2 separate regions of the Homo sapiens genome follow, and region 2 is reported to be linked to region 1. The links are microRNA targets in miRTarBase. Many come from high-throughput screens and were not tested one by one. Region 1 holds a microRNA gene; the other region holds the end of a gene's coding sequence.

The links. The annotated mature microRNA hsa-miR-4687-3p reads UGGCUGUUGGAGGGGGCAGGC and lies in region 1 at 1,584-1,604, opposite strand. An mRNA with a match to its seed (bases 2 to 7 or 8) in the 3' UTR can be bound and repressed. Matches are read on the target gene's strand: a 7mer-m8 pairs with bases 2 to 8, a 7mer-A1 pairs with bases 2 to 7 and ends in A, and an 8mer does both.
Region 2: miRTarBase lists ZNF793 as a target of hsa-miR-4687-3p. The part of its 3' UTR that is shown has no 7-base or 8-base seed match.

What each region holds. Positions count from the first base shown.
Region 1 is chr11:3,854,717-3,857,716 of GRCh38, reverse strand. MIR4687 (microRNA 4687) reads right to left here and starts at 1,655; the gene lies at 1,576-1,655. It overlaps STIM1 (stromal interaction molecule 1), which reads right to left and starts at 2,053. Exons shown (of 13, transcript NM_001382567.1): 1 at 1,308-2,053. The coding sequence starts at 1,446. STIM1-AS1 (STIM1 antisense RNA 1) reads left to right here and starts at 2,139. Exons shown (of 2, transcript NR_183662.1): 1 at 2,139-2,360. RefSeq lists enhancers at 1,138-1,187, 1,198-1,277, 1,428-1,637, 1,853-2,798 and silencers at 1,858-2,017, 2,078-2,137, 2,618-2,667.
Region 2 is chr19:37,537,544-37,540,543 of GRCh38, forward strand. It overlaps ZNF793 (zinc finger protein 793), which reads left to right. Exons shown (of 8, transcript NM_001013659.3): 8 at 1-3,000. The coding sequence ends at 336. All of the region lies in intron 1 of LOC124904708, which reads right to left. Among named protein-coding and RNA genes, the nearest start is that of ZNF571-AS1, 9.9 kb to the right of the region's middle.

The DNA.
Region 1 (3,000 bases):
CAGCAGGTGCCCACTGAGCCATTCCCTCATTTGAACTTGCTTATGCTCAGAAACAACTCATCTATAAACTCTCCCCACACTGCAGGTCACAGCTTTGGGCAGATCACAGCCAAAGGGTGAGAGAAATGGGAAAAGAGAACTGATCTCGTAAGCCTTATGTAAAATGACTGGATTTTAATAGAGTTCCTTGATGGGTACAGTGGCTCACACCTGTAATCCCAGCACTTTGGGAGGGATCCCTGCACAACACAGAGAGACAGTGTCTGTTCAAAAAATTAAAAATAGAAAGAAAAAAAAAGTTAGCCAGGCCCAGTGGCTCTTGTGTTTAGTCCCAGCTACCGGGAGGCTGAGGCAGGAGGATCACTTGAACCCAGGAGTTTGAGGCTGTAGTGAGCTGTGATCACACTACTGCATTCCAGCTTGGACGACAGATCAAGACCCTGTCTCAAAAAAACAAAACAAAACATAAAAGTGTTCCTTTCTACTGCAAAAGTATACCAGGGCTCCTGCTGCCTGATAAGCCTTCACAACTGCATAGGAAAAACCATGACAGATCAAAAGTAGCATGGTTTCCCTAGCAAGCAGACTCAGGGAAAAAAAAAAAAAAACAAAAAAAAAAACCTGTAGCATGGAATTCCCACCCTCATCAGTCAGAAGAAACAGAATAAGTCAACAAGTGGTCCCAGGAATTATATCATGTCTATGTCAAGAAAAGGCCATTTAACACCCTAGTTGTAAATAGGATTCCATCTAAGAAACCGCCTGGATATTTCAAATGCGCACAGCAAAGAGACAAGACTACCTAAGGGAAGGGTGGGACTAGGGTTCCCACGGTTGTTGGAATAGGCACACCTGAACACCAGGCTTTCAGGCAACAGAGGTGGCCCAGCCTTAACTTTCCCTTTCCAACATAAGTGGCCCCAACCTCCCCCATGCTGCTCAGTACTAAAACCGAATAGGAGCAATGAACTTATCATCTCACCAGGCCATTCTTCCAGACAAGTAGGCCTAAGATGGGGTCTTTCCTTGCTGATCTAAAAGGTCAAGTTGCCCCAAAGGCTTCTTCTTACTGCCAACAAAAAAAATCCTGAGTGCGGGGGATGAGGAAAGTTGTTCAGGAAAGATACAGGCATTTGCCATGACTACTGACCAGAAAGAACTTCTTGAACTACTTGGAACAGGCAGTGCCATGTGTGAATCCTCCATGAACCTCACATGTACAAACCTAGATTTCAACTTGCCCACTTCGGGCCACTCAGTCCTGAGCCAAAGCCTCCAGCCCAGTCCAGCCCGCAGCAAGGCCTTACCTGCTGCAGTGGACTCCTCAGAGTTGGCCCCCGAGCTGGTTCCTGTCGCCTTCTCACTGTGACTATGGCTGAGGCTCTGGCCCTGGTGCAGGAGGAGTCCCCAGAGGAGCCACAGGGCAAGACGGACGCATACATCCATGACTCTAGGTCTCAGTCAACATGCGTCTGATGTGGACACCTCGGGATCCCAGAGGCAAAGCCAGGAGCCCGGGAGTGCAGCCGACGGTCTCCAGGCAAGATGCCCTCGCGGCTCCGCAGCTGTCCAGCCACCCGCGAGCCTGCCCCCTCCAACAGCCAAAGGTCAAGTGCTCCAAGTTTGGGTGCGGGAGGAGGGCTGGCTCCTCAGGTCCAACAGTGGGTCCGCCGGGGCTGCGGCGGCCTGAGCTCGTGCCGCTTCCGGAGACTTCGGGCAGGGTGGCTGCGGGGCTGCTGTCAGCTCCGCAGATTACTACACCCCTGCGGAAGGGGGCGGCCGGAGTCTCCGCGGGCACAGAAGTGGAGGAGGAAGAGAAGAGAAGAGAAGAGAGGCGAGAAGGGGGCACCTGACCTCGCCCTGCCGAAGAGCGGCGAGCAGCAGAAGCTGGGGAGGGCGTGCGACCCGCAGGGTCCTGAGGGCGCGGGCGTCTCCGGGATCCTGGGCCTCCTAGGCCGAGGTCAGCGCCCCCGCCCAGTCCCGTGCCCAGGCGGCTGGCGGTGCCCAGGTCCAGCAGGCGGACGCACACCGGCCAGGCCCAGGACAGCGGCTTCCAGGCGGGCGGGCGGCGCGGGGCGGGCCCGGGGCGGGCGGGGGCGTGCGTCTCCGCGCCCGCCCCGCGCCGCCCGGTCCCCAGCGAAGCCCGGGCCAGCCCCAGCGCCCAGCTGGATCCCGGAATAACCGGTGAAGACGGCTCCCCGGAATCCCCGCCCCTAGCGGGCTCTCCCGGACCCCCGGCCCGCGCTAGTCTTTGCCAGGATCCCGCGCAAAGGATCAAGTCCCAGCTTCCCTTTCCCCACCGAGAGTCTCCAGCGCCAACCGCGGGCCGTCGGGCGGGTCCCTGACCCGCAGTTACTCAGGTAACTCAGGCCTGCGGCGGCGGCGACAGCAGCTGCCCTGCCCCGATCTCCGGGCCTTGGTGCTGCTCCACTCGCCTCAGTTCTAGAGCTGTCTAAACAGAGGCCCAGGACACGACGTTAGCCTCCCAGGAGCTGCCTGAGGCGACAACAGCCTGACCCGGCTCGGCCCGGGGGCGAGCTCCCAGCCCCCAACTCCCGGCCAGTTCCCAGGCTCCGCCCTCGCGCCTCGCCTGACAACCAATCGGCTTCCGCCTCTCTGCGGCTTGGGAACCCGCGCGCTTCGTCGCCCATGCGCAGCGGCCCCTGGTGGGAAAATCAGCAAACTGCAGACAGGACTCGGCGCTCCTGGGAGGGCCTGCTCTTTTGCAGAGGGTTGCCGAGTGAAGCTAAGACCCGCCCCGGGGGAGGCCCACGAGGGCCACTGGGGCCTGCGAGTGTTTTCTGAGGAAATGATGATGCCAGAAAGCAAAATGAAATGTCCAAACCACTCTAGCTAAAATTCCCCTACACATTCCTTGAGTCTGGGCTAAAGGGTGCCATCTGCTTTCCCGACCCCGCCTCCCTTCCCCTCCAAGCTAAGTGGGATGCCCTCCCTTAGCTCTCACAGCCCTTTTTCCTACCTGCCCTCAAGCTCTCAGCC
Region 2 (3,000 bases), not on the chromosome of region 1:
TCACACCGCACAGAACATCAGAGAACACACACAGGAGAGAGACCCTTTGTCTGCAGTGAATGCGGGAAATCGTTTGGTGAGAAGTCATACCTCAATGTACATCGAAAAATGCACACAGGAGAAAGACCGTATCGTTGCAGAGAATGTGGAAAATCCTTCAGCCAGAAGTCATGCCTCAATAAACATTGGAGAACTCACACAGGAGAGAAGCCCTATGGGTGCAATGAATGTGGGAAAGCTTTCTACCAGAAGCCAAACCTCAGCAGACATCAGAAAATTCATGCTCGGAAGAATGCCTACAGGAATGAAAACTTAATAATTGTGGGAAATACTTGAGCAAAATATCTGGTTTCATGGTATGTAGGGAATTTTTTTTTTTTTTTTTTGAGTTGGAATCTCACTTTGTCACCCAGGCTGGAGTGCAGTGGCGCGATCTCGGCTTACTGCAAGCTCTGCCTCCCGGGTTCACGCCATTCTCCTGCCTCAGCCTCCCGAGTAGCTGGGACTACAGGTGCCCACCACCATGCCCGGCTAATTTTTTTTTTGTATTTTTAGTAGAGACGGGGTTTCACCGTGTTAGCCAGGATGGTCTCGATCTCCTGACCTTGTGATCTGCCCGCCTTGTCCTCCCAAAGTGCTGGGATTACAGGCGTGAGCCACCGCGCCTGGCCGGTATGTAGGGAATTTATCCTTAGGAGAAATCTTATCATTTTAATGAATTTGAACAGTGTGTTTTTATTTTATTTATTTATTTATTTTGAGTTGTATTCTCTGTTTCCCAGGCTGGAGTGCAATGGCACTATCTCGGCTCACTGTAACCTCAGCCTCCCAGGTTCAAGCAGTTCTCCTGCCTCAGCCTCCCAAGTAGCTGGGATTACAGGCACCTGCCACCACGCCTGGCTAATTTTTGTATTTTTAGTAGAGATGGGGTTTCACCATGTTGGTCAGGCTGGTCTCTTTGGCTAGGCTGGTCTCGAACTCCTGACCTCGTGATACCCCCCAACCCCCCGCCCTTGGCCTCCCAAAGTGTTGGGATTACAGGCATGAGCCAACGCGCCCAACCGACAGTGTTGTATCATAATGGAAATCATGATCTAATTGTGATACAAACTTTTCTAGAAAATACTTTCTCAAACATAAGCATGGACACCCTGGCATGTAAACGTTTAAAAATGTATTAAATGGAATAACAGCAGAATACAAAATATCTGTGAAGAGACTTAAAGGCATACTCTGGTATATTCCACAGTGAGCCATACAATCAGCATTATTTGTATTTTGGAGTTGTAAATGTGAAATTAACATAAAATGTGAATATCAGACACATGTCACACAACATATAGAATGCCATTCAGAAAACTTTTCCACTTTAAATATCATCATTGTCTTTTGATGTCTTAACAATACAAAAAAATAACAACAACATGGCCCACTATTGTTAAAAGAACTTTATTATACCAGCTACATTTTTCCACCTTTTTGTAATACATGTAAATGGCTATAGAGGTTGTTACTGTCCTCTGCAGAAATAATAAAGCAGTGTTTTTAAATGTATTTGGATAATTTGGCCAAAAATTTTACTAAAATGTAGTTATTTATATTAAAAATGCAAGCTAAGGAATAGTTTAAGAACCTGATACTGGGTAAATGAAACACTGTAAACTATTTGACAAAATGTAGTGTCACCCTGGTGTACAGTACACTGTTCATATTTTCTTAGTCTTGCTTAAAATATCTTGTAGCAAATTAGTAGCATTGCTACACTATTCTAGATACACTATTCTATATACAGGTTGTATAACTCAGAAATGTTTCATGCGTAGACCACTGAAGGAGAATTTCTTTTCTCTCTATCCCTCTGCAAATTAATTCAAGAATATTCATTTTTTTCATATAAATTTCCTTGCAAGTGTCCTAGACACTAAATCCCAAGGTTTTAATTATTTCAATGTTTGGAAAGAAGTCTGCTTCCCTGAGTTGCTATGTCATCCATATTAGAAAATAAATGGCCATGTGGAATCTACATTTTTCAAGATTTCCCTCCATGTAAGACTGCCTGATCCAGAATGAGAAAGGAGACATAACCACAGATATCAATATGATTTTTTAAGTGATAAAAAGATACCTCATACAACTCTAATCAACATATTTTTTAAAAAGAGGAGGTGGATGCTTTTCTAATAAACTTAAGTTATGAAAACTGCAATAAGAAGTAGAAAACTTGGTAGGATAGTTAACATTGAAAAACTCAAAAAAGCTATTAAAGATCTATAATGGGAAAATGCTCCAGGCTCAGAAGAGTTCATGCTTAGTTCTATCTTTTAAAGAAAGAGTAATACCAGTGTTATTTATTATATGGATGTAATACAATCCATGAACTGTACTCATTTATTTTATTAAGTCAGAATAAATTTTAACACCAAAATCAAATACAGATAGTTGAAAAAAGAAAACTTCTGCTGGGTGCGGTGGCTCACGCCTGTAATCCCAACACTTTGGGAGGCCGAGGCAGGTGGATCATGAGGTCAGAAGTTCGAGATGGTGAAACCCCATCTCTACTAAAAATACAAAAATTAGCCGGGTGTGGTGGCACACACCTGTAGTCCCAGCTACTTGGGAGGTTGAGGCATGAGGCAGGAGAATTGCTTGTACCCAGGAGGTAGAGGTTGCGGTGAGCCAAGATCGTGCCATCCAGCCTGGGTGACAAGAGCGAAACTCCGTCAAAAAAAAAAAAAAAAAAAGAAAACTTCAGACCAGTCTTACTCATGAATATAGAAACAAAAATTATAGTTAAAATACTAGCAAATAGAATTCAGCCATATACCCAAAGAGTGACATAGTAAGAGTCATCCCAAGAATGCCAAACCAGTTCAGTTAATAGGAAATGCATCAATCAAATTAACAGTTTAAAGGAGAAGAATCATATGAACTCTCAACAGATACTGAGAAGGCATTTCATAGAATGTGTTAATTTACATTGTAATAGATGGGAACCACTTA